4 separate regions of the Homo sapiens genome follow, and all the other regions are reported to be linked to region 1. The links are microRNA targets in miRTarBase. Many come from high-throughput screens and were not tested one by one. Region 1 holds a microRNA gene; each other region holds the end of a gene's coding sequence.
What was found. The annotated mature microRNA hsa-miR-4719 reads UCACAAAUCUAUAAUAUGCAGG and lies in region 1 at 1,953-1,974, opposite strand. An mRNA with a match to its seed (bases 2 to 7 or 8) in the 3' UTR can be bound and repressed. Matches are read on the target gene's strand: a 7mer-m8 pairs with bases 2 to 8, a 7mer-A1 pairs with bases 2 to 7 and ends in A, and an 8mer does both.

Region 2: miRTarBase lists CPNE8 as a target of hsa-miR-4719. Seed matches in the 3' UTR shown: 7mer-A1 at 2,473-2,479, 8mer at 2,526-2,533, 7mer-A1 at 2,620-2,626 and 7mer-m8 at 2,733-2,739.
Region 3: the mRNA of MED26 is a reported target of hsa-miR-4719. Seed matches in the 3' UTR shown: 7mer-A1 at 5,720-5,726.
Region 4: miRTarBase lists HOXD1 as a target of hsa-miR-4719. Seed matches in the 3' UTR shown: 7mer-m8 at 5,652-5,658.

The regions. Positions count from the first base shown.
Region 1 is chr16:76,863,840-76,870,961 of GRCh38, reverse strand. MIR4719 (microRNA 4719) reads right to left here and starts at 2,026; the gene lies at 1,943-2,026.
Region 2 is chr12:38,648,228-38,655,349 of GRCh38, reverse strand. CPNE8 (copine 8) reads left to right here. Exons shown (of 20, transcript NM_153634.3): 20 at 1,280-3,147. The coding sequence ends at 1,468. Among named protein-coding and RNA genes, the nearest start is that of CPNE8, 250 kb to the left of the region's middle.
Region 3 is chr19:16,570,121-16,577,242 of GRCh38, forward strand. MED26 (mediator complex subunit 26) reads right to left here. Exons shown (of 3, transcript NM_004831.5): 3 at 4,799-7,122. The coding sequence ends at 5,907. It overlaps SLC35E1 (solute carrier family 35 member E1), which reads right to left and starts at 2,295. Exons shown (of 6, transcript NM_024881.5): 1 at 1,824-2,295; 2 at 1,392-1,462. The coding sequence starts at 2,244. It overlaps LOC105372295 (a long non-coding RNA gene), which reads left to right and starts at 2,430. Exons shown (of 3, transcript XR_936360.3): 1 at 2,430-2,688. RefSeq lists silencers at 1,662-1,791, 1,952-2,061, 2,192-2,411 and enhancers at 2,330-3,204, 2,512-2,601.
Region 4 is chr2:176,188,894-176,196,015 of GRCh38, reverse strand. HOXD1 (homeobox D1) reads right to left here. Exons shown (of 2, transcript NM_024501.3): 1 at 6,563-7,122; 2 at 5,109-6,208. The coding sequence ends at 5,874. It overlaps HAGLR (HOXD antisense growth-associated long non-coding RNA), which reads left to right and starts at 7,058. Exons shown (of 3, transcript NR_033979.2): 1 at 7,058-7,122. It overlaps MIR7704 (microRNA 7704), which reads right to left; the gene lies at 7,115-7,122. RefSeq lists an enhancer at 3,206-3,746.

The DNA.
Region 1 (7,122 bases):
TAATCTAAGAGAAGCCAGTCAAGGACTTTAAGCAAGAGCATGATATCCCTGGGCATTATTTGTTTCATAAAATTATCCTAAGACTCAGTAATTCTTCTCGACTCAGTGTTGAAAGTATGCTCTTAGGGCATACTTAGGCATGCCCCAAGTTATCCTAAGAATCAACAATTCTTTTGGTTTCTGTCTTCTCTATTATAAGCTGGGTGTCTAAGAGATAGACAGTATATGGTGGTAGAGGCACAGGATACACTGGTGCCAGGAAAAGCAGGCACAGGAATTTCATCTATGATGGTAGAATTTGGGGAGACTGATGAGTCCTTAATCAAATTAGATCATAGCATTTTGTAGGTGAAGAAAATGAGATGCATCTACCCTTTTCTCTTTCAGTCAAAATTTAATAGTTCAATTCTAATACGAATTTTAATTTAATTTTATGTTGTGGGATACATGTGCAGGACATGCAGGTTTGTTTCATAGGTAAACCTGTGCCACGGTGGTTTGCTGCACCTATCAACCCATCACCTAGGTATTACACTCCGCATGCATTAGCTATTTATCCTGATGCTCTTCCTCCCCTGGTGCCTCCAACAGGCTCCAATATGTGTTGTTCCCCTCCCTGTGTCCATGTGTTCTCAGTGTTCAGTTCAATTCTTATCTTGATTTTTTTTTAATCTAAGAGAAGCCAGTCAAGGCCTTTAACAAGAAGTGGGCAGCAGTGGAAGATGGGTAACTCGACTTGATTTTTATTTTCCAAGAATATGGTAACAACCCTATGAAGAAAAGTTGGAGGAAAACAGGACTGGAGGTGGGGAGATCTGTTATATATTCATTAGAGTAATCCAAATAAGAAGCGATGGAGACTCAAACTCAAGTAGTTGCAGCAGTAGTGGAGAAGAAATAGATTGGGCAGTTATTATAGAATTAAAATGTATAGGTCTTGGCAATCAGTCAAATGTAGAAAGTGGAGAAAAAGAATGGATATGGAATGTGAGGAGGACATGAGGCTGAGACTGGCTGAACAGGCAAGATGTAATGCCACTTATTAATCAATAGAAATTAGAATCAGCCTAAGGACTGAAGGGAAAATGACAAGTTGAATGGAGATGTTGATGCAGAGGTGACTATGGAACCCCTCAGCAAAGATAATGGAAAATGCAATTCAACAAGCAGCTTTGCTACTTAGAAGAAATGACTTTCAAAGTTCCTATCCCAGACATCAGTATTGTCATCAATAAAACCAAAAGGTATTAATTTACTCGTCAAGGTCTCAAACCATTATAGACTAAGACTGGTTTCTTGACTTGGCTACAACTCTACACAAAATAGCTAGTGTTACATTTACAGAAATATTAAGAAAATATAGGTATATGCATTAAACTCAATTTCCCCTTCATATTCTGGATGTATTTGAGATTGCCATATATCTACATAGTTTTAAATATTTAAACCTAAGTAACTATTTAATATTCAATAAATGTGTCACATTTTATCTTGTCTTATATCAGATGTTTTGCTGTTAGTTTCTTGCATTTTATCATTAATGTAATTCATTTTCACAGAGTAATGCCTACATTCATAAAAAGAAAAATCACTACTTGAAAGACTTGATGTTGTCATGTTTGTTGAAGAATGTTCCTGAGACAATCTTGGAAATGTGAGTGAGAAGTGGGATTTGGCAGAATCTGGAAAGTTGGTCTTCAATCTGATTGTAATCCACTTGGAAAGAAGAACATCAACCAGTGAAAGACTTAATGCATCTGCATGAATGTAAATCAATCAAATAGATATTTAAGAAACTTGTTCCTTTGCTGCCATTTCAAAAGTCAATACCATGTAATATTCTAGAACAGGTCATGACAAAGTTCAACATAAAAGGAAATAACGTTTTACTAAATGCATAAAGATTTATATAATTTAAGGCTTTTGCAAACGTATAGTTTTCACAGTGATGACCTGCATATTATAGATTTGTGAAATTTTAAGTTTTAATGTAATCACAAATCTATAACATACAAGTCATCATTGTGCTTTTCAGCACTAAGAAATCTATTCTTCCACTGATGTGTGAAAGATTTAAGTGACCAGACACTCCTAACAGTAATAGCTTTGCTCTTTTTCCCTCATGCATCTGTACCAGATATTATTGCCCAGAGGACTCTGAGCAGTGTTTCTGTGTATATTTAAGAATTAAACGGTAAAATTCTACTAAATCATAATGCCAACATGATAAAATATCTGCAGTAATCATGTCCATCAGATAATGACAATAAAACATTATTATTCCATTAAAACTAAGGAGAGAAATCAACTAAAATTTGTATGCAGGAGTATTAGTTCTTACACATTTTTAAGAAACATTTGTTTACAAGTGCTGGTAATTTTTAAAAAGTTAACTAAACTGCTTAAATTGTATTAGTAACAATTTCAGGTTTACTAAATTGTTTATAAGCACCGCAGCTCTATCATTTTTAACCTTGGGTTGTAAATATATAATATAATATAAACATGTAAGTGTGTTTGTATGTATGTCTGCTCAGGTGATAAAAAATAAAAAAGTAAACAAGAAAAAAAGTCACTTAACCATTTCTATATAAAGCAGTAATGTCAACTGAACATCAGGATAAAATCAAGCAACAAGAAGACAGACTGTCACATAGGATATGTGTTATTTGTATCTAGAGAGAGTATATTCCCTTCAAATCTCTTTGGGATGACAACTTCAGTCATCCCTAGAGAACACAGATTTCACAGCACCAAAACTTCTGCTGCCAGAGTGTGTGACGTGGAGGCAGCTCCATGTACTAGAGGAGAACTTGCCTACTGCAAGGTGCACTCCTGCCCATCCCTCCATGCCAACACACTGGGTCACTGTCTCTCATGTCAGTGAGAACTGCTTAAGAATAAACCCTCTGAGGACAGCATGATTCTCCTCTGCATGGAGAAAACTAGGTTCTGCTGTCCAGAATTATGTCCACAGAATATCCCTGGTTCCTCCAACATTAAAGGGCCTAGTTGAACTCTAGAAAAGAAAAAAAAGCAATCTTTTAATCCAATCTGCTACCTTCCACCAAAAGACAACTGAGAATGATAGCAGGGAAGAAGAGGGGAAAATACCTGTAATATACTCAAAACTCTTGATGGGAAGCCAGTATCGTGCAAGGCATGCAACATATTTTAAATCTATAACCACATTTAACCTTCATAAAAACACAGTGAGATGGGCATCCTCTCCATTTTCCACACGATGAAAACTAAAGCTATCAAAGTTAAGTAGCATATCCTGTTTATACAGCTAACTCAGGGCCAGGGCAAACTCAAACTTTAGATCATCTGGCACCAGAGCCCATGTCCTTTAAGTTTCATTGTTTTGCCAACACGTCAAGTGATTTTTTTAAATTTTAAAATAATATTATGTATTTTGACTTGAGTATATTACTCAAAACAGAGCCTTGTATGTGGGATAGTGTAAAATTCCTGCTTGTTTTAATATTTTTATGCACATTAACATTTGGGAAAAACAGCCCTTGCCACTTTGTCTCCATATTTGTTGCCTACAGATGACCTGAATAAATTTAACTCTCTACTTTCTTCAAGTGTGAAGCCATCAGCACTGCTAATAAGTGATGAGCATGGCAGATAGTCCCTTCTGTCAACAGCAAGCTGCTTAAATTAAAACCACTCATTTCCATCTGAGGCCACCCTCATCCACGTGGGATATTCAGCTTTCTCTCTCAGCCAGGTTTTCAGACTCAAACCTGCAAGTCACTTGCATTGATTTTGTCTTGTTTGCCAATTTACATGTAACTTTGGCCCTGGACTTCCAGTAATGACAACAACATTATGCTTTGATGCTATCCATTTTCTTGATTTATGTGGGAATACTTTTCTGATTGTCTCTAAGACTCATTATATAAGGTGTGTGTAGCCCAGTCAATTGGCAAGGGTACCAAGATATCAATGGGATTGCAGAGTTTTCCTTCTCTGGTTATTCCCTGCAAGTGATGAAAAAAAAATATGCATTTTCTCCTAGTGCTCTTTCCTAAAATTCCAAGTGAAATATAAAATACTTTCATTTGTTTTTGCCAACTTAGATTTATGGACTCTGCTCGAGCTCCAAACAAAATTTTAATTTGGTCTAATCTTTATTTCCTAGGTTTTTATTAACCAACTATATGTCTGAGATAATTTTATAGCTAATTATTATAGTTAGGGGAAGAACACAACAATAAAAAAAACCCAGTCATCTCATTTAGACACCAAGATCTGCCAAGAAATATTTTACTAAAAGCAATAACTTGTGGTTAATATCACTAACAGTCCTGGTAAATAAAAAGATATGCAGGAATTACATGAAGAGGATACTATAATAGCAATGATTCTATTTCAGAGATCTACAATATGCACTATAATATTTTCCTGATAAGTCAATATTGATACTATAGCAAAAACGTAATAATGGAGGTTATCAAAATGTTTGATATGGTCTGGCTCTGTTTACACACCCAAATCTCATCTTGAATTGTAGCTTCCATAATTCCCACATGTTGCGGGAAGGACACAGTGGGAGGTAATTGAATCACGGGGGCAGTTTCCCCCATACTGTTCTCTTGGTAGTGAATAAGTCTCATGAGATCTGATGGTTTATATAAGCAGAAACCCTCCTCGCTTGGCTCTCATTCTCTCTTGTCTGCTGCCATGTGAGACATGGCTTTTGCCTTCTGCCATAATTGTGAGGCCTCCCCAACCATGTGGAACTGTGAGTCCATTATACATATGTAACAAACCTGCACATTGTGCACATGTACCCTAGAACTTAAAGTATAAAAAATATATATATAAAACCTTTTTCTATATAAATTACCCAGTCCCTAGCATGTCTTTATCAGCAGTGTGAAAACGGACAAATACAATGTGGTAGGCCAGTTGTCTAAGCCCGGTATTAGGAGTTTAATGTCTCTATCCTTTGAGAACTTACAAATATATAGGTAGAAAGGTATATGTATATATATATATACATATATATAAATCTTATGATGAACCAAATACATACTTTAGAGTCAAAGTGAGAGAAGACGATGACTTGACCATAGAATTTCAAGCTATGAATTTGCAAGCTTGAAAATGGAAGAAGGGGACCCCTTCTTTCGCTTCCAGGCAGCCTTTAGAAGCAGAAAAAATCAAGGAACATTATGGACACACACATGCATATGTATATATATATTTATATACATATAAAAATAGATATATTTCATCCAATCTATAGATTAAAAATTTTTGAATGAAAATATATTGCTGGAAGTATGAAATCTGTGGGTATTTGCTTTTTCGAGTGAAAAAATTATCTGTCTTAATTGCTGTGGTGGTAAACCACATGCATATATTTATCAAAACTCAGATTACATATTTTGTAAAAATCTATGCATTTTATGAATGAAAATTTTACCTTAGAAAAATATTGATAAAGCATATTCAATAATGTATACTTAGACTTAAGTCTAACTTACATGGTCACAAAGGGGCAACTGAGATGCTCTATTAGTCATCTTATACTTTTTTCGTTATGCTCACTAATGATTTGAATGAGAATCTCCATCTTTAATTCCATTTCCTCTCCACACTTTCCCCTCTTGCAATCTCTCTACTATCCATGTGCATTATAACTGCCTGTGATGTGGTTGGCAGCATAATGACCCCCAAATATGTTTGATATGTTTATCTGTCTCTGTGAAATTTTCTTTTGAATCCCCAGAATCTGTGATTATGTTACCTTACATGGCAAAAGGGACTTTGAAAATACAATTAAGAAACAAAATGGGGACATTATCTTGGACTATCCAAGTGGACCCAATGTAATTACAGGGGTCCCTAGAAGGGAGAGGGCAGTAGAAGAGAAAGTGAAAGGTCTGACCATGGAATCAGAAGTCAGAGTGTTCTATCTGCTAGTCTGAAATTGGAGGAAGGGAACATGAGCCAAGCAATGCAGGCAGCCTCCATAAACAGGAAAAGCAAAGAAATCTTCCCTGGAGAGCTCTTCCCAGCTTTCCGAAGGAACACAACCCTGCCAGCACATAGATGTTAGCCCAGGAAAACCCATTTCAGACCTCTGCTATCTGGAATCCTAAGAAAATTAATTTGTGTTAAGTGACGTTGTGAATTAGGGTTCTTAAGAGGGACAGAACTAACAATACATATACATGTATATATAAAAGGGAGTGTATTAGAAAGAATTGGCTCACATGATCACAAGGTGAAGTCCTATGATAGGCCATCTGCAAGCTAGAGAAGGAAGTCAGCAGTGGTTCAAAGTCCGAAAGCCTCAAAAGCAGGGAAGCTGGCAGTGCAGCCTTCAGTCTGTGGCTGAAGGCACAAGAGCCCCTGGAAAACCACTGGTGTAAGTCCAAGCGTCCAAAGGCTGAAGAACCTGGAGTCTGATTTCCAAGGGCAGGAGGAACCAAAGGAAACATCCAGCATTGGAGAAAGATGAAAGCCAGGAGACTCAGCAAGCCAGCTTATTCCACCTTGTTCTGCCTGCTTTGTTCTAGCTGTGATGGCAGCTGACCGGATGGTGCCCACTCACATTCAGGGTGGGTCTTCCTCTCCTACTCCACTGACTCAAACGTCAATCTCTTCTGGTAATACCTTCACAGAGACACCCACAAACAATATTTTACCAACTATCTAGGCATTCATTCAATCAAGTGACATGTAATATTAACCACCAGACTAAGTTTGTACAAATTTGTTTCAGCAGCAACACAAAATATATTGCCCCTAACTTTAGAAAATCCATTCTGCCCTGACAATTATGACACTGAACTTTCCTAGGTTTTATCTTTACCTTTTGTTACCCTCTGTCTTTGTTAAATTTTCTTTTGGAAGAGGGATTTTAAAAACCCTAGAAATCTAATATTGGATAATTTGCCATCACTTCAAACACAGCATTCCAAATCTTATCTTTTTATATATTTTTAAAATTAGAGCCCCTTCAGTCTTCCTTATTGCTGCGGTTTGGCTGTGTCCCCACCCAAATCTCATCTCGAATGGTAATCCCCACGTGTCAAGGGAGGGACCTGTAATAGGGATTCTTACATGGAGACCTTTAACCTTCATGTGTGGAGAAAG
Region 2 (7,122 bases), not on the chromosome of region 1:
GAACTAATGCCCTCAAACAGCACAGTGTTTATTAACTTAAGTAACCATTATAAATGAGAATGGAATCAGGCAATCTATTACAGGAGCATTTGGTATTGAGCCGATAAGGGCTCTCACATAATTACATATATAAAGATATAGTAATCATTTTTATTAAGGGTGGTGCAAAAGTAATTGCGGTTTTTGCCATTGAAAAACCACAAATTACTGCAAAAACTGCAATTACTTTTTGTTCCAACCTAATATATGTTGTTAGAATGATGATATTTCCATAAGAAATATACCCAAATCTTATGCCAAGATCTTTTTTCCTGTCTTCCCAAATAGTAGATACTCAAAAATCAACATCTGATGCAAAACTCAATGTACTGAATATTTCAGCTTCCTATTAATATGAGCTGTGTGAATTCTATATTCATAGTCCATGCGATTTTGTCTTAGAAAGAATTAAAATACTTTAATGTGTTTAGGACTTTTTAACAATGTACACTATTATATTTTACCCTGAATTGGGTAATACTCATTTCTTATCCAGAATTGGGTAGTATTTTTATATCAGAAGCTGAATTAGGCATATATTAACTCCATTTGACAGGAAACCAAGCCCCAAAGAGGTTAAATGCTCCATCCTGTTGGGATTCAGGCTGGGTATAGAACCTAAAACTGCAGAAGACATTTGGCAACATAATAAGCCTATTAGGATTAAGTGACATGAGTTATTGGAGGAAAAACATAGAAAATGATTGCATTCCTTTTGAGATAAAGCATATATTATGTAAGTTTAGTCACTTATAGCTATTTGTAGTGTATTGAATTTTTTTTTTTTTTTTTTTTTGAGACAGAGTCTCGCTCTGTCGGCCAGGCTGGAGTGCAGTGGCATGATCTCGGCTCACTGCAACCTCTGCCTCCTGGGCTCAAGCAATTCTCCTGCCTCAGCCTCCCGAGTAGCTGGGATTACAAGGGTGTGCCACCGCACCCAGCTAATTTTGTATTTTCAGTAGTGACACAGTTTCACCATGTTGGTCAGGCTGGTCTTGAACTCCTGACCTCAGGTAATCCACCCACCTCAGCCTCCCAAAGTGCTGGGATTACAGGCATGAGCCACCATGCCTGGCCTATTGAATATTTTTAAAAATGTATAATAATTGTTATCCATCTCTCCATTACTCTCAGATTCCCTGATTTTCCTATGACCAAATGTGTACATGTGTTGATTTTTTGTGTTTATTACATAGCCTGCTAAAGTCTGTGAAATAACTTTCTTTCGTCTCTGTTTTAGTTTGTGCCATTCAGGGATTATATTGACAGAAGTGGAAACCACATACTGAGCATGGCTAGATTGGCTAAAGATGTCCTAGCTGAGATCCCTGAGCAGTTTCTCTCCTATATGAGAGCCCGAGGAATCAAGCCATCACCTGCGCCTCCCCCATACACCCCACCTACACATGTGTTACAGACTCAAATATGACTGTGCTCTGAAATGCTAATGTCAACTACAAATCAAAAGTGCTGAGTTAATGCTTTGTGCCTGGTGCTCTGTAATGAACCAGGCAATGAGATAGTTTTCTCAGTTTGGTTTCAGCAGTTAATGTGCTTTCTTGGATCCAAATTTAAATATCTTCCTAAACCAAAACTGTAAATATGGTTGTTGCATGAGCAACAGAAAAAATTGTTTAAATGCTTGAAGCAAAGTATGGATGTCTTCTCTAAATCTTTCTTTCTTTTTTTTTTTAACAGAAACAGCTAATTTCCAATGTATTGTTGGGAAAAAGCACAAACTGTGTTTTTAACTCAAATATTGTCTTCGACTGCTATGTGTATAGGAAAGCAGTCTCTGTATCAATGTTTACATGTTACTACTTTTTAAATTTCAATACTTTTATAACTGTTCTTAAAAATAAGAGTTTTAAATACTGAATCCTTTGTCTTCTAAATTGCAATAGCTATAATCACAAGAGCAATATCTCTTTGAATGACTGTCTGGACAAACACAATTGCAAATAAGGGAAGGGAAAAATGCTTTTCTATTTTTCAGTAACTGGATTGTCTTAAGAAACTACATCTGCTTAATAAACAATTTCTCAGCAATGTTTGCTGGGTATGGGAGTTTAAGCCCGGCAGATGTGTCTCCTGGTTGAACATGCATTTTTCATGGAGTTTGGGTTCTAAATTTAGACTGCAGTTGGTTTGTATTTTGTAACACTAAGTAGAAATTATAAAAAGTCAAACATTGTGATCTATAAATGCACAGAAAATACTTTGTAAAAAGTAGCATCCTTATATAATAATGCTATTTAGAAAGACTGAAACCAAGACTATTTAACTGTGAACTATGTAGCAGATGTTTTAAACTTTTTATTCCATTATATCTTGTCTAGATATTTTAATTCAAAGGGATACTGGCTCTCTTGATCGGAATTTCTTGTTATCACCATTCCACGTTGCCACACAAGGTGCACAGGCTGGAAGTCTTTTGTGAAATTCCCAGTTAAATATATACAACTATGTGACTTAGTGCACAACACATTTGTGAAATAACCTACTCCTATATACTGACCTGCCTGTCCACGAATAATTGTAAAGGGTTTTTGCATGTACAGTTTTTACAAGAATTACAGTTTTGTGAAGTTGTGTCTAAATTAAAGCATTTCTTTAGAACAAATGGCCTTAAATTCTCACGGAATTCCTGGAAATGATTGTGAATTGCCTTCAAATAATAGAAAAGTGTATTTATTTGTGTGTGTGTGTGTGTCAAAAATGTAACTGCTTTATAATATTTTTTCCTTACCTATATATTCTATTTAATACTTGGTTTATTTCTACTGTACATTGTTTTCTTTGTCCCAAGTTGACCTAGGGTGACTTTTATAAGCATGAAACTATTTTACTGGAAAGAAAAATATATACATCCACATATCTAACAGTATCAATGTTATATAACTATGTAATAATTGTTGATTTTTAATTATGTATTAAAATCTTTAAATCATAACTATTTGCTTTGTACGTTTCATGTATGAATGACAATAGTTTGATGATTTCCTTTACTGATCTTAAATATTTATGCCACTACAGTGTATTACCTACAGATTTTTAAATTTAGCTTTATTTATCAACCCAAAAAACAAATAAATAAGATCAATATTCTTTTCTTCTTGTCAAACATCAGTTATTTTTTTGAACTGTCCAGAGAAAACAAAAGTTGTACAATTCCTTGTATAAATAATAGATTGCTCAAACCTAGTGGGAGTAAATGGCCAGGAATGAAGCAATTTCTCTTTACAAATGTTATCATTTATATGGCTGAGAATGATAATCAGAAACTTATGTGAAGTTAATGCTACATGTAAGATTAGAAAATACGTAAATCTTGTGTATTCATTGCAAAAATGTAGTAAACCAAGATTGGAGGGATTAAGTGATGTATCCAAGACTATATAACTAGAGAAGAGCTCATTACCATCTTGGAAATATTTGTTATAACTTACATTTTGTTAGTTGCTATTAGGTGCTATGCAATAGGAAATCCCAGAGACATGCTTCATAAAGGAAAACACATAGTAATAGTTGTACATACAAACTGGTTATCAGGGATATTTACACTTACGGTAATGAGCAACAAGAAAGGTATATATTGAGAAGGGGTGATAGATTCAAGTCATTAAACCTGCTGCAGAAGTCAGTCTTCAAGTGGTGCCCTCAAGAACCCCAGAGACTTTGGGCACTGTCCTATCTTTGTAATCTCATTTCCTTCCTCTCCAATGAAAGCCTCTAATTATCATTTGAACTCCAGGATGAACTCTTGGTGTTATTTTCAAGTATCTCCATCATCTGAATTTGCCCAGTTATGTAATACCAATTCCTATTGCTTCTCAAATTAATATTAAAACTAACCAGGCCTGCCTCATTCCTTTTCCGCAACCACTCCGAGTTTACCTGGAGTCTGTCTATAGTGTTCATACTCTGTTCTCTCATCAAGCCCTCTTCTCTGGTCTTTACCTGAGGATATCCTTTGCACTTTCCAACTCAAGCCCCAGCTCCTCTGAACCTTGTTCTTTAAAACTTCAATGCTAACAATAATCAGTACTTTCTATGAGCTCATCTTTGTATTGCATTTCAGCATATTAATTGCCTCAGATTATTTCTAAACTATTTTATTTTATCTGGGGCATCTTGTCTCTCCATCCTTATGGAATAGTATTTAATGGCACCTGGTAAATTTTTAAAGCTCCCCAGTTTATTGTAATGTGTAGCTAGAGTGTGAAATTGCTGCAACTAAAGACTATTGGATGACTCAATTACTACTTTTTAAATTATCTCTTCCAACATGCAATATCGAGAGAAAAGAAGAGGTGGATATGACTCTGGTGGTGGTGAATGTGGGAAGAGAGTGGATTTGGGATTAGGGTTGGAGCATAGGTTATTTTGTTTTTCAGGCTCAGGGAAGATAATAGATGGACTCATGCACTTTTTTTTTTTATTACTGTGTCATCATCAACTTAGGAAATAAAGACCTCTCACAAAGATGAGGTGGATGTGGTTATTTCTTAGAAGACCTGAAATGCCAAAGATTTTACTGAAGAGCATGCCTTTTTCTTTCAGCTTGCGTGAATTTTATTTAATGACTTTGTGTTACATATAGCTGTAATTGAGACAAAGTGGCCAGATTCTTCATAAAAACTCAGAGTAAAGAATAATTTTTGTGATTAGCACAAATCAGATACATTTACTAATAAATAAGCTGCTGAGTTGAGGATCAAATAGATTGAGTGCATGTGGAGTGTTACCTATGAAGATGGAAAAGATGGAAATCTACTTGCAAAAAGTCACACTTGTGCAGAGCTTTCTCATCAGTGTGTTACAGATGATTTACAGATTTATGCCTTGCAGATGGGCTACAGGTGTGCACCTTGGGGTGGTGTATAGTGCCTGGGGTAATTGGAGCTCCCAGCCTCCATCATGTTCATTGGCTAACCTCAGGATATTTTAACAAACATTCCCATTTTTAATGTGTGTCTTGAAATGTAGGGAAGCACTGCATTACAGAGATTATTTCCTAAATAACCTCTGCTTACAGCCAGTTCCACCTTCATTTTTTCTACTTATATGCCCTACGATATTTATACTGAAATTAAATTGAAAGAGTATTCACATACAATTCCATGGCAAATGTATTGTAGCAAATAAACTTCAGAGGAATAAGACATGAATGTCCTTGCATTTTTCACCACCTTCTTCATAAACATCCTACCACTCACGAAAATAGGTGTATCATCAGATGACCCAGAGGACATCAAAGCGTAGAGTCAAAGGGATTCAACCTTGTTATTTCCTTAGAATAAACACTGTTCTAGAAGACATCCTCTTCTCCCAACCATGACTGTTCCCCTCACCCCACTTTCCTACCAAGTATCACTCTATTTGCTCTGTTGATACCTGAGCGTCATTTAACAATAGGCAGTCCTTCATTTTACAAACTATTGGGATGTGCTGAGATCAGATACACGGATCTTAAGAATAAGCACATTTTAAAAACATATTGACATAATTCTTTGCACCAAAATTTTTTCTAAAAAAACCTTTCTTCATCATATCTTAGTTACTTAGGTATGACTTTGATAAGGGAAGACTTGGTATATCATGAACATGCACAAGTTTTAAACGGCTTCCTTAGGAAATGTGAAAGGGGAAATAGAGAAGCAACAAACAAGTATTTTCTCATGAGTTATTGCCTAAGCTATGTTTATAACTCTTAAGAGATGATTATCCTAAGCAATGCTCACCTCCTAGATTTCAGGTTTTTAACCTGGAATGAGGAGATACCAAGTAGAAGTACTTTCCCAACACAGAGTAGCCCATAACAAAATTATTTTTCTTTAAATTGATATGACCCCCACCCCCAGCTACCATTTTACTGTATAGAATCTTACTTCTTTGTCTCTAAGCAAAATATGCTAACATAATACACAGAAGTCTCCAAATATAATGTCTATACTAAGATTATCTCAAAGACATAATAGTTCTAATTCATATCACAAACTTTTGAGCAGTATTTGAGGCAATATATTCACACCTCATCAGTCAGGGTTATTGCTTACCTCATACTTCATCAGCACACCCCCAACCCCAACAGCTAACCTTGCTCTTATTTTCTGGCTTTAGAGATGCTCTGAATGTCAAACTCTGAGAGGAAAATGACCACTGAACTCTGACTATGGAAAGAGCAAAAGCAAACTGATCGAAAGATTTGCTCATTTAGTTTTAAAGCAATAGTGACCATGACCTCATGATTTTCTCACCACAAAGTTATTCACCAATTTAATTTCCATGAAACAGGCCTGCTGGGCATTCCTAATGTATTTAGATAAGCTGATTTCATACAGATGGGATTTGCTATCAGTCAAATGGGTGGATGTCATTGACCTCACAAATTAGGGGGAAGGATAAAGGAAGGAATATGCTTAGGGTTGGCTTAAAAATAGCTACTCTTTCAAAGATCTTTCTCTCCTTATGAAATAAATGAATTAAAAGAAGTTATAAGACTGGTTCAGTAATTTTGACAGAGAACAACCAGTTTGTTAACCCTTACAATTTCTGCAAGATAATGCTGACAAGAAACAATAAATAATGCACCTTTCAAATCTTTAAAACAATATTTAAATCAGAATCTGCTTAAAATTCACAAAATTTTACTATCACTTTCAACCATGGCAAAAGGCATACACTGTAATTTAGACATGGGCAAATTTGTCATGCACTTTAGATGACAATTCTGCACCAGATTTCAAAGAAAGTGGGTGATCCCTGAGAAAACAAAATGACAATCACTAGAAACCACTTTGCATCATCAAGCAACAACTTTTAAATCCCTAAACATTATATGGACCTAACCCATCTCCCTTAAAAAAAAGTCTGTGACATCGGCTTGCAAATCTTGAGATAGGTCATCAGATTAGTCTTGAAAGATGAATTATAGGTGCCTTTTATCTTTCATTTATTTTCTGAGGATATCCTGTTGTTTTCAATCAATGATTTGAAACCTAAATTAAAAGTTACATGTGTGCTTGGTATCTTCTATAGGCTGGTTATGAAATTGCTAGACGCTTCAATGGAAGGAGTGTG
Region 3 (7,122 bases), not on the chromosome of region 1:
CCAGTCTTTCCTCACTGTGTGAAGTTCCGGCTCCTTGCCCAAGCTGGGTACAATGTCCCGTACAACGGGGAAACCTGATACACACGATGATATCCGGTGATGCAGCTACACACCTCAGGGACAACTCTGACTTCTCAGGAGCCAAGTCACAGCCTGACATCACCCTGGGGGAGCAGGGCTACAGAGCACACACAGGTCTTGCTGAGACAAAGACAGGCAGGAATAAAAAAAAATCAGCCATAGGTGGCCCAATTTCTATAAGCCGATCCAGGGCACTACCTCTCTGAGTTACATAAAATACAACATGCCAGAAACCAACCACTTGGAAAAGAGGCACGGTGTCCAGCATCAGCATGAAATGGATTCCGGCTGAGACAACAAGCGCCCAACTTCCACTTAAGAATACGGGATAAAGCTGTCTCCGGCTAAAGCCATGGCTATTCTTGCCCCAAGCCAGGAAATACCCTGGCTTGGCATCTTGAACAGAATTTGGACTGTGCCCAAAGCATCCTCCTTATGCAGCCCTGAGTCCTGTGTGCCACTTTCGCTTCCGTTCCCAGACCATCACAACTTCTGGCTGTTTTAATTTCTAAGACTTTGCTGGATTTTGCCAAGATCGAACTCCTTGGATCGCGTCTGGCTTCTGATCCCAGAGGTCCCCTGACAGAAATCTCTTGTCAAGAAGTGAAAACCTAGCCAAGTGCAGTGGCTGACGCCTGTAATACCAGCACTTTGGGAGGCTGAGGCGGACGGATCACTTGAGGTCAGGAGTTTGAGACCAGCCTGGCAACATGGTGAAACCCTGTCTCTATTAAAAATACAAAAAAATTAGCCAGGTGTGGTAGTGCACGTCTGTAGTCCCAACTACTTGAGAGGCTGAGGCAGGAGAACTGCTTGAACCTGGGAGGCGGAGGTTGCAGTGAGCTGAGATTGTGTCACTGGACTTCAGGCTGGGCAAGAGTAAAACTCCGTCTCAAAAAAAAAAAAAAAAAAGTGAACACCTAACCGACAGCGTTCTGATCCATCCATCCCTAGTCCCACTGGAAAGGCCACACATGGGGTGTATGGCCAAGATGTGACCAACCCATCACCTACCAGCAAACCCAGGTAGGGAATCAAAACGGGGAGGAAAATTGGATCTGAAAGGGACAACAGTGTTCCTAAGACCACACAGCAGAGATCACAGAGGGACACATACTCCACACACCACTGCTCACAGGGTGATTCTAGAACTTGAGTAGTAAAAGGCCACTGGAGACCTCTACACTGACTTCCCTATTTGACGGGAAGCCAGGCAGCCTGCAGACCAGGATCCTGACCACGTCACCAGTTGGCAACAGGGAGGAACCCCCTGGAGCTCCCATCTGCCCAGAGTCCCTGCCCGGGGTTACCTTGGTGCTCTGCTTCTCCTTCATAATGATCCGGGACAGGAGGACCACCCAGATGGGCATGGTGGCCTTGACTGCAAAGAGAGGGATGGGCACTCAGGGGGCTGCCTGAATTTCAGGGCCCAACCTGTTCCACCTCCACGGCGGGATGGGAGGGCCTGGCAGCCCCTCACACCTCTTCGCCCCTTCTCTTTCGGTAGGGCTTCCTCCTGCCACGGCTGTTGTGGTCTGTCCTGCTTACCTCTCAGCTCTCTTCTCAGCTCCTCTTCTCCCTGAGAACCCCGTGCGTGTCCCTCCCCTACCAAACCCTTGGCAGCCCCTCTGCTGACTTCTCAGTCCGGCGGGACGCGCCCCGGGCGGCGCACTCCTATCCATGCGCCCAAACCCGAAGCGGCGGGCCCGGCCGCCGCCCCCGAGGCCGGGCGCGGAACCTACCGGTGTGTGCATAGGACACGGGCACCTTCCAGATGCTGACGTGCGCTGACACGGACGCGAAGTACTTGCCGAAGGCGAGCGGTAGCACGTAGCGCGGGTAGAAGCGCGGCGGCAGCAGCGGGCCGGACGACGGATGCGGACTGGGTCCGGGGCCCGAGACGGGCGGCGCGGGGGGCACGCGCCAGGCGCGCAGCAGCGGCGGGAGCCCAGCGCACAGAGCCAGGATGTGGCACAGCGACACGGTCACCGGGAACGGGAAGGCGCTCAGGATCACCTTGTTGACCACGTTGCCGCCCGCGCTCAGCGCGTACCACAGCAGGCACAGCGCCGCCACCCGCGCGCCCTCGCGCGCCCCACCACTGCTGCTCGCTGCGCCCGGGCCCCCCGCGCCGTGGCCCGCGCCCACCGCGGCCGCCGCCATCCTGCCCGAGCGGCCGCCCCTTCCAGCCCGTCCGACGGCCCGACGCCGGGCGGGGGCGGGGCTGGGCGGGGGGGCAGGCGCCCCGGTCTACGCCGTTTCCCATTGGTCGCTGCCTCCTCGCGTCATCCCTCCGCGCCGGCCGACGCGCCAGCCACCACGTCTCGAGTGCAGGCCCAGTCCACTGTAGATGCGCTTCCGGCGGAGCCGAGGCCGGAAGCGGAAGAAGGGGACACAGACCTGCGTCCAAGCTGTGCCACCTGAGACGTGGGCGGTCCCAGTGACCGGGAGCCGGAGCTCGAACGGGACGGGCGAACAGAAGCGCGGAGGGCTTCGCAGCGTCGGCGTCTGTGCGTGGGCCAAACATCAGGGCCTCGACCAGGGATACAAGGGCAACCGCTAACTAGATTCCTGATTCCTGATGGCTGGCGGCGGCTGACACCAAAGGTAAAAGGCCTTTTAGGGAAAGAAACCATTTGTGAAAAGCTCTTGGGCTAAACTCGCTCTGCAAACTGGGGGCGCACGCTCGTGGCCAAACTCTGGCAGTGGGACTATCCCGGAGCACCCGATCCCTGGAATCATGTTCTGGAAACCACCGCGACGTGCGCAGTTCTCGGGCGTGGCCCTGGTATCATCCCACTGAATCCTAGGAACGCGGTGCGGTAGGTATCACTGTCCGCATTTCACAGACCGAAGTCCAGAATGGGGAAGCGACTTGTCTTAGGCTTCCTGGCCACACTGGGGACCGTGGTCATGGTAGCGTCCTTGGACACCTGTCTCCAAGGCTCTGCAGAAGGGGGAGGTGCCGGGCCCTGACGGCTGATGTCCAAGGACCAGCCGGGATGGACCAGCCCCAGGAGGCCCCAGTGGAGGAAAACAGGACGAGGTTTTCAGTAAGATGATCTTATACTAATTCAAGGGCTATAATTTGTTCTCCACATCGTGTGCCTCCAACTTTTTCGGGGAAAGGGTGTTAAAATTCCGTTACAGTGTTTTTACTTGTCAAATTAGAAGCAGCAACCGGCTGGGTGCAGTGAGTCAAGCTTGGAATCCCAGCACTTTGGGAGGCCAAGGTGGGCGGATTGCTTGAGCTCAGGAGTTGGAGATCGTGGCATCGATAACATGGCAGAACCTCATCTTTGCAAAAAATACAAAAATTAGCCAGGCGTGGTGGCGCACGCCTGTGGTACCCACTACTAGGGAGACTGAGGTGGGTGGATCGGCTTGAGCCCAGGTCAAGGTTCCAGTGAGCTATGATGGCGCCACTGCACTGCAGCCTGGGTGACAGAGCGAGACCCAGTCTCAAAGAAAAGTAGAAAGCAGCAACCCAACTTGGCTCCCCAAATGTTGGAAGGTATCTTAGCTTATCCTTGCATTCTCAAAGGCCCTAGGCCCTTCTGGATACATGGACACAGGCATGGTAGTCCCTGCAGGCAGGGGTAGTGGGGAGCTGCAACCTATCCCAAAACTCTAGAGATGCTGATAGGAGGCCAAGCTCTGCACCCTAATATCCTCCAGCTGTACCCTCTGTGGATCAGAGTAAAGTCACATCCTTGGGACACCATGTCTCAGCAGAGCTGTTAAACATAGGCACAGTGAAATTAGGAAAGTATAACTATAGGCACCCTACAGCACAGCTGAGTGTCAGATACTTCCACTGACACACTGACATGCTTTGTGTTTTAGTTCTCACAACTCTGGGGTATTCTCACCCCCCAAATGGGGACATGTGCACAGGAGTGAAGAGATGAGCTCAGAGCCACACAGCTGGTGGGTGGTAGGCCTGGGTTCAACCTCATCCTGCCTTCAAAGCCACTTTGCCCATGGCCTTTTGTTGGGGAGGGGAGTGTGTTCTGCACCAAGCTTTTGCCAGGAATCCCTGCTAGCTCTCAAACTGGCTCTGGACTGACTGTAGTCTTACAGGCTGGAAGGAACCTTTGGTTTGCCCTGTGAGACTGCATGTCTTAAGGTGTAGCTGTTTCTTCATTTGTGAAATTAAGCAGATATGGGTAAGATGACCTATTCCAAAGTGAAAAACTGGAAAACCAAAGTCTTAGCCTACAGTTTCAGGGACGAGGGGGAACTAAAAGATGAGCACTTTATAGTCAAGGGAGAAAAATTTTTTTGGAGTCAGCACCAACCAGCTAATAAGGCAGCTGGGGGCCAGGGCCATGGGGTGGCCTTTCAGACACACACACACAGCTCTGAGCCTCTGGGCCATACCTTGTAAGAACTAGGTATTTTGTTGAGGTGGGGGTAGTCACTGAGACCTGTGCTATGGGAGCCTCCTACAGAGGGCTGCTCTCTAGGCCAGGTAAAGTCTGGGTGAGACAAGAAAACATTCCTTAATGTGGCCCTGAATGAATAAAATGTGGAGGTCCTCCCAAATGCAGCAGCAGGCTAACAGGTGGACTGCAAGGCTGTGCCCTGCCCTGTCTCCCTGCATTGCAGCTGTTGGGGTCTGGGTGTTCCTGGCTAATAATCCACAATCCAGGAAAGGGCTGATTTGGTTGTGAAGGTCCAAATGAGAAAAGATTCTCAGACTGGTTTGTGCAAATGGTTTTTTTTTTTTTTTTATTTCCACATTTATATCACAAGGTGTCCACTTACTGGACCAAATAGCAAAGTTGCTCCCTTCTGCGTCCTGAGAACACAGAAGTCTAGGTACTGTACATTCACTAAGGCTCCTTGTTTTTGCAAATCGCGTTTATGACAAATAACCATAAGGCAAACGAATCTAAAGGAATGGTTATGAGTGTTTCCAGCGTACAGACAGGTCTTCCCCCTCGCCCCACAGTACAGCATAAAACCAGTAGCACCCACAATAACTTTTGTGTTGTTTTGGGGGGACTCTAGAAAGGTGAAGTTTTCTAGATGTGTACAGGAAGGGAAAAAAGAAAAGGGAGGAAGAAAGGAAAGGTTTTTTTGTCTGGTGGTCTGATGGAAGAGGAATTGTTTAAAATAAACATGAGAAAACTTAAATTTTTGCAGCATTTCTTTAAAAACTGGGTTATAACTGAAACCAGATATAAACAGGTGGCTGCCCATGGAGTGTGGGTCACACTGGCTGGCCAGCTGGCCCGCCTGCCCAATGCCAGTGGCTCACCACAGCTGAGAAGCTTCTGGCACATGACAGACAACACTGGCCTGACAGTGGCTGGGTAGGGAGCAAACAGAGGCAGTGGCATGGCCCACTGTCTCAAGACACTCAGGGCCAAATTAAAGAACAGAAAATGCAAGAGAGATGAGATGCGTGCTTCTGTTGCTGTGTTAAAGGTGACCTCTCCCACAGGTTTTCTGTGCCTGCCTGCAACTGAGGCCCCAGCTTTCAGGTGCTGGAAAGTGTCCGCACCTCTTTGGGGGTGAGGGACTAACGCTTTTTATAGCTGGTTTGCTATAGAGTTCTGAACTCACTTTGCCGTCCTTCCTTCCACGCGGTCCTTCTTCGCAATTTTGTTAGTAAACTGGTAGCAGCATTTCACAAAAAGAGTTTTGAGGGAAGAGCGCAGAGAGACCGCGTGACTCCCGCCCCCTCCCTCCCGCCTGGGCCGGACTCCCCGAGTTCCCAGCGCAGGAGGCAGCTGGGCCCCGGCCACCTGCCCACCTGCCTGCCCGCCCACCCGGCTTCTGCAAGATGGGAATGCACTTTGTGGCTGACAGGCCGGTCAGTCCAAGCAGACATAAGGCAGAATGTTCAAGCGCCCGTCGTCGCCGTGCGGATCGAGCGATATGCACTGCGTCCAGTCATACCAGTTACCCTGTGTGTCCTGACACCCGTTCACCCCCGGCCACTGGCTGGCCTGGATTCTGTCGAGATCGTCCTGTGTGACCTCCCGGGTCAGACCAGGGAGGTCCGTGGGCGGGCTTTGAGGCACCAGCACATGCAGCTGCCTGGCCCCTTGCCGGGTGCTCTCCTCCTGCTTCAGGTACTCAGACATGAAGTGGTGAGCCCCTGGGGTCTGCGCGCCCGATGATGAGAGCAGGCTGCTCTGCCGGCTCAGGTAGGACTGGATGATCTCGTTGCGTGACAGCTCCTTCCAGTTCGTCTGTTCGAAGGGGCTCTGGAGGCTGGCCTTGGCCTCCTGCTTGTCCAGCTCTGTCCTGGACTGCTGCTCCATGTGCACAGGGCTGTCTGCCCGCACTGGCTCTTTCTGGGTCAGAGGTTTGATCTGTCTCGTCATGGGGTCAAAGGTGAGCTTCCGCTCTTTTAACCGGACAGGCTTGACGCCCGCCTCAGCCACCTGCCCGTCCAAGTTAACCGTATAGTCTCGAGGTCGGTACCTCTTCTTCTTTTTACTGTCCGAGCCCCCTGAGGAGGCAGCATCACTGTCCGCCTTGGAGGAGTCTGGGGAAAAGCCTGCCCGGGACAGGAGGGGCTCGGCTGGGGACAGCCCTGCCTTGCAGCCCGGCCCCGCCAGCCGCTGGTGGCTCTCAGGCTGCTCAAGCCAGCACACTGGGCTTTCCGCACTGGGCAGCAGCTCGAGCCGCCGTACGGGGGGTGTGGACGGCTGTGCCAGTGGAAGCGGTGACGGCACCTGTGTGGCATCGAGTGCCTGGGGCCGCGGTGAGGGGCTGGGCACGGAGCCCTTGGGTGCATACAAGCTCTGCTGCCGGGCAAAGGAGCCCTCATGCCGTGAGTTCCGAGGACTGAAAGAGCAGCGAGGGGGTCCCTTGGGATGGGGAGGCCCCGGAGTCTCGTCCACCCTGTCCAGCTGCTGCAGCACCGAAGCCTTTGGCTGCAAGCAGGGTCCAGGGGGCTTGCCCAGGCCCGGGGAGCTGGTGTGCGGTCGCACGGCGTTGACGGGGATCTTGCCACTGTGCTTGTCATTCTCGTCACGCTCCAGGCGGCTGCCCTCTGGGCCTGCATGCCCACTGCCATCC
Region 4 (7,122 bases), not on the chromosome of region 1:
AGTTTATCTATTCAAAGGAAAGTGGTCTTTTTGGAGGCTCTCACCATCGTTAGCTTTTAGTTCATCAGGTAGACAAATGAGGAACATTACCTAGTTCACATATACATATGCACATACACCCAGATTCTAAAGCCAGATAATTTTTTTTTTTTTTTTTTTTTTTTTTTTTTTGCGACGGAGTCTCGCTCTGTCGCCCAGGCTGGAGTGCAGTGGCGCGATCTCGGCTCACCGAAAGCTCCTCCTCCTGGGTTCACGCTATTCTCCTGCCTCAGCCTCCCAAGTAGCTGGGACTACAGGTAACCGCCACCACTCCCGGCTAATTTGTTTTTATATTTTTAGTAGAGACGGGGTTTCACCGTGTTAGCTAGGATGGTCTCGATTTCCTGACCTCGTGATCTGCCCGCCTCGGCCTCCCAAAGTGCTGGGATTACAGGCGTGAGCCACCGGGCCTGGCCCAAGCCAGATAATTTTTAAAGGTCTCAGAAATTACTTCAATCCCAGCCTCTCATTGACATTAATCTTACAGAGCTACAGTACTACTAAATACTCTTCAGTAATAACCAGCACAGTAAAGGATTGTGAAGAAATGCTAAGGTGATAAGGGAATGTAATGATCATCCAGACCAACCCACTTTGTTTTATAGGAGAATCTAAGACCAGGCAAGCTATTTTTCCTTTTAATCAGAAAATACAACTGGTACTGAAATCCAGGTCTCCTCCCTTAAGAATAATGTTCTTGGCCAGGGGCGGTGGCTCACACCTATAATCCCAGCACTTTGGGAGGCCGAGGTGGGCAGATCACGAGGTCAGGAGATCGAGACCATCCTGGCTAACAAGGTAGAAACTCTGTCTCTACTAAAAATACAAAAAATTAGCCAGGCATGGTGGCGGGTGCCTGTAGTCCCAGCTACTCAGGAGGCTGAGGCAGGAGAATGGCATGAACCCGGGAGGCAGAGCTTGCAGTGAGCTGAGATTGCGCCAGTACACTCCAGCCTAGGCGGCAGAGCGAGACTCCATCTCAAAAAAAAGCAAAAGAATAATGTTCTTACTGGGTGTGACAGCGCATGCCTATATTCCCAGCTACTTGGGAGGCTAAGGCAGGAGGGTCACTTAAGCCCAAGAGTTCAAGACCAGCCTGGGCAACAAAACAAGATCCCATTTCTAAGAAAAGAAAAATAATAATGTTATTTGTTCAGGGTCCTTTACTTCAGCCTCAGTGGTTCCATCCTAGGAAATGTTTAGACGCTAACAATGTGGCTGCATTGTCTCCAGCTATATCTTTCTCTTCTGTTTATATCTTTGAGAAGAAAACACAACAGAAGGGGACCTCTAGGATGAGATAGGGTTCCCATTCTAAGGCAGTAGAATGGGAAAAGCCACTGGCTAAAGTCAGCCACCCAGTAGCCCAGAAGAGCACAGTGAGATTGAGATGCTAAGAGAGTAGAACAGAGTGCCAACCTGCCCTTGTCCCCATTATCCACTATTTGATGCATTTGAAGAGAAAGAGTGACTCTGGCTCTAAGATGTTAGAGAAAAGCGATCATTGCTATTATCTCATAGGCAATGATGGCAGTGGAGAAAAAGTGATGGTTTCAAGGAAGGGGCAGATATGAATTTACTATGAGCCCAGTGAAATGTAAACTTCACTAACTTGAACCATTCCACATCCTGGGAATTTTGTATTAACAATTTTGTATTTTTTTCCTTAAAGAGGTTTCCCCAAATTGTATAAGCTTAGGCTCTACAAAATCCCTAAGAATTCAGTGTGCTGAAGAGTCCAGCACCTTCTAGAAATGCCTCAAAAGTGTCAGTTTTAATAAACTTGTAATAGTTTATTAGCTATGACAAGTCCAAATGACTACTCTTTGGCCCTTCTTTCCAAAATACATCAGTAAGATTTCTAGAAGGAGAAGAGATTATGTTGAAATCTTTACAAGCTAAGTAATAGACCTTCCTTTCACACCAATATTTAGGATTTTCATCCTCTTGGTTCATTATTGAATCTAGTTAAACAGTTTCTATAGAAATTTTATTTCTGAATAACAAGTACAACGTAATAAGCAATTACAAATGAGATGTTGAAATAGAGTTATTTTGCAGATTTGTTGCATGTTCATGACTTGAAAACATTAGATAGAGGTAAAAACCATGAACATCTTTGTTTCTATTTAGACGGATATTTATCTTCGTGAGATATGTCCACTATGGTTTTACTTTAAAACCACAAATAAAGTTTTAACAATGGGCATTTTTCTTGTTGAGAGGTCTGTGGTCAGACTAAACAACTCTCGGAAACTGATTAGATCCTGAGGTTTTCAAATTCAATATTCAGCAAATATAGATCATTTCTTTGGCCATAAGGAATAATTAAGAACTTCAGAGCTAATGCAACTCTCCTGAGCCTGCTTCTGTTTTTTTTGGATGACACGATAATCAGACAGCCTTTTCTGGTGTTGGTCCTCACCATATTTGAGATTGAGGCAGCATAAATCACACACAATTAATCTTTTGAAACTCTAGGTGACATTGCTTTAGGTTTTTATATCAGCAAAGCCTTCATTTGCTAGTACTCAACTTATGGGAATTTTATATATTATTAAGTGCTTTCCTTTTCCTCACTCCCAATTATCCTGATCCAGAAAAGTAGACACATGGTCATTATGTGAAGACAAAGGAACATTGAATAGTTAATTATACAACAGCCAGAACTGTCCACTGTGTATTCATCCTTGTAACAGATCACTGGAGGGTAAATTAGCATATTTAGTTTGAAATCTTGTAAAATAGAAACGGGATTGTTTGAGTAGTTGCAGTTTACATAGTAACCTCATACTTCATGGAGATCTGACTCAAAATAACACAAGGCTCAAAATAATAGGAAAAGGAATGCTCTGTAAATGATCCACATTGCCTAGGTACCTCCACTGACAACATGTATTTGATAGTGTCTAAAATCCTCTTTTCCTGTATAAACACAGTATCACTGTAATCCTAGACAGCACATTTGCTTTCTCTTAGAGCCTAACTCCCTTCAAATGATAGGTCTAAAATAAAATATGCAGAAGTCATTAAATTGTAGCATTTTCATTGTTGGGAGGGACCTCCAGAGGTCACCTAGTTCATCCCGATCTCCAGCCAGGACTCTTCCTAATACTGAATATAGCTGTACAGTGATCTGCATTAAGAAAGCTTTTAAAGATCCCTGGGGTTGGGCAAAAAATAGCTAATATTGGCCTGATTCATAGAATAGCATTATACGAATGTCATAATAGCCACCTTCATCAAGGAAGACATCCATCAGGGCTAAGTGCTAGTACTAGCTTCAGAAGGAAAAGCTTTATTTTCTCAGAGAAAAGGGTGGTAGATTAAGGAAATGACCCAGCATGTTGGTATTTTGTTGTTGTTGTTGTTTAGGTGTACATTTAAATGCTTATCAAAAAGGAAACATTGTCATGTCAAAGACCACTGCAGGGGAAGCCCAGAGGTGGCTGTAAGCAAGCAGATCACAAGTCCTTTAACAAGTTCTTTCAAATAGCAGTAGAGCTCAGAGGGGGGCTGTTGTTTCAAACAAGATTCAATTAGCATCAAGTTATTAAAGGGCAGCCGGGGAAACAAGAATAATATTGACAGACCTGCTTTTTAAGCAGTATCTTTTCCCTCTAATCAGCTGAGTTTGTTGGAGCTGATCATTTTATTTCTTCAACTCCATTCAACTATAGGTGCAAAGAATGAGAACTTCAGTGTAACTCCAATTTTCTAAGAGAACTAATCATATTGCTGCTTTATAAAAAAGGTAATCTTTCACAGTTGCTTAGATTTATGAATAATTAGATTTAAAGCATTATACTGGAATCTAGAAATCTAGCTAAAAGAGCTGAGGTTCTTATCTGAATTATTTGGGCCGTTAGCCCTTCTGTTGAACTATAGAAAGAACTTAAAGATATAGTTGTAAAATAAGGACGTACTCCCCAAAACTGTCCCAAGTATCCACTTGATTCTGTATCTTTATATTGCATCTTTTTCTCATATTTCTGCAAGTTTACATAAACTCTGGTCAACTATGAATGCCTCCCGGGATGAGAAATGGGAGTTTGGGTGAAATAGATTAGAGAATAGGTTTTGGGGTTTTTTTTAACCACATACTCTCTTGTCAACTTTCAAGTTTTGTGCTTGTACCTCTTCCAAAGTATTCATTTGAAAATATTTCATTTTTGAAATCAGAAAGGCACTGTCTGTGCTCTCTCTCCGCCAGATACTCAGTCTGGGTTACAGGAAGTAGAAATTTGTGACTACTAGCCTTTCCCAGCCTCCTTTGTAACTCTTGACTTTGGAAATGGGAATTCAGCCACTGAGAACTTTTTGATGTGCAGCTGCCTTTCTCAGGGAACACTAACCAAGAAACAAAGTCTTCAGGTCACCTTTCCTCTTCCTTTTGTGAGGACAGGAGACAAAAGAACAAGATCTCCCTGAAGTGTCTCCTTGGCTTTACAACATTCCACAGTAGGCACCTAACACTTGAGTTAAATGTGCAGACTACACACCTACCATAAAATTAGGGCACTCAAGGTAAGGAAAGTATTTCCATAGTTACTTGGATATTTGGCAGAGTAGTTTTCTCTCTTAAACTACTAATTGCCCATAACTTGCTGGGTGTGTACACAACCTGTAGGAAGTATTATTTTTAAAAGTTATCGGCTGGGCGTGGTGGCTCACGTTTGTAATTCTAGCACTTTGTGAGGCCGAGGTGGGCGGATCACCTGAGGTCAGGAGTTCGAGTCCAACCTGGCCAACATGGTGAAACCCCGTCTCTACTAAAAAAAATACAAAAAATTAGCTGGGCATGGTGGCTCATGCCTGTAATCCCAGCTACTGGGGATGGTGAGGCAGGAGAATCACTTGAACCTGGGAGGCAGAGGTTGTGGTGAGCCAGAATTGTGCCACTGCACTCCAGCCTGGGCAACAGAGCAAGACTCCGTGTCAAAAAAAAAAAAAAGTTATCAACATAAACAAATTCTCATAGCAGAATCAAGAAAATTCAAATACAGGAAACTGAATCAACTTTAAAGAAAGAGAATCATTATTAAAGAGTGTAAGAAAAGCAGAGAGCAGCAGATTCTATAATTTTTATTACAAAAAAAACCCTTTACATGCTATGACATTAAATGTCACTTATAAGGTCATTGCAAGCAAATCTTTTTAAAAAATATACATACTGTATATATTTACATTCAAGTTTGAATAATATTTGTCAAGATATAGTTCAGATTCTACTCTTTACCCATTCTGTGGATTTGTTCATCTAGTAACTAAACAGCGATTGTATCATCACTCAGGCACATAGAGAGGTAGAAACCGCTTTTTTAAAGAAAAAAAAACTGGAGTGCAAATGTGAAGATCACTGAAGCAGCTTAGCTACATCAAGGAGACCCTAACTAGCTTTGGTCATCTCAAAAAGCTGAATATATGTAGCCTTGTCCTTTAAATTAAAACCAGAAAAACTTTGGGCAGGTGCTCTTCTGAGCACATCAGAGTGCTGACAGAACTCAGCAACTAATGGTCTGCCACTCTGCAACGCGAATTGCACATGACTAAGTGAGGCAAAGATAGCAGCGGAGCTGGGCTGGCAGCTGGGCACCTTTTCCCTGATAAGACACAAATCATAACCAAACAAGTGGCTTACAAGACAGTCAATTAATATCTGGACATATAGTCTGGAACTCGGAAGCCAACTAAAGTACTTCATTTCCCAAGTGAAATCCCTATTCATTTTTGTTCTCCCACCTCCATCCCAAACTGAGCTCCTAAGTCTAGATAGGGATGGGGGTCGCCTGGGACTTCTGCAGGCCACAGTTTTTCGGCCCCAAGTACCGGCCTCACGAAGGCTCTTGGGACTGAGAAGGGCTGCCGGGGTTCTTGATAAACTTAGTGGGGGTTGTTCCAGAGAGGGGAAGTTGGAGGGGAGCCACAGGAATGGCCGTGGCCAGAAGCCCTTCTCGTTCCCTTTTCTTCTGTTTCATCCTGCGGTTCTGGAACCAGATTTTGACTTGCGTGTCATTCAGGTGCAAGCAGTTGGCTATCTCGATGCGCCGGGCTCGAGTTAAGTACTTATTGAAATGAAACTCTTTTTCCAGTTCTGTCAGTTGCTTGGTGCTGAAATTCGTGCGGATCGCGCTGGAGGGGCTAGCGGCCCCATACTCGGCGAGTTTGCCTGCAACGTAAAGACAGGGCGTCAGCCAGGCCTGAGGCCGGGGACAGAATGTGGGTGAGCAGTGGAGCTAGTTAGAATCAAAGTCCCAGCGCAGCCCTCCTGGGTCCCTAGGAACAGAATTTGTACCAGGAGAAGTTCCACGGAGAGCTCCTTCCTGAAATTTTCTCAATGCCTGGCACATTTTCCGAATCTGTACTCGAGGCAGACTCCATGGAATTCGCCCGGGAACGCGTCTCCTCCACAAAACCCAAACCGCTGTCTGGAAAGGCAGCGACACCACGCTCCCAGCGCATTTCCGCGGGGGAGGCTCCGTCCCCAACCCCAGGTGGCCCCATCCAAGGCCCGCGGACTTACCTTTCTTAGAGGCATTCCTCTTCACTTTCATCCACTCGAACGTGCTGAAGGCGGCAGGGAGGCCGGAGGCGGGAGAGACGGACTTGGGGTAGGTGCCTGGGGCCGGGGATGCGGTCTGGAAAGCACCAGGGTGGCCGTCGGCTGACGCTTTGAGACAAGCCGGAAAAGGGCCGGGTTCGCCGAAGGCCGCGTAATCCACCTGGCCGCTGAGGAGGAAAGAGCCGCCGCCCGAGAAGACGGCCGAGGTGGCGTAGTGGACGTGAGACCCGCCGTCGTCGGCCGCCCGCCCCAGCACGCCCGGGAAGTCGTACGCCGGCCCGGACCCCAGGAAGCCGTAGTCCGCGCCCCCAGCTGCCGCGGCAGGTGCGGCACCAGGTTCGTAGGCCCCCTCCAGGGTGCACTGCGCGTACTGGGGCGCGGCCGGAGGCGGTACGGACGGCCGCGCGGGGGCGGCCGGGGGCGAAGGCGAGGGTCGGGCGGCGGCCAGGGGCAGACAGCTGACGAAGGCGCCGTCGCCGTTGCCCAGAGGGAAGGCGGGCTGCAGAGCCACGGGCCGGGCG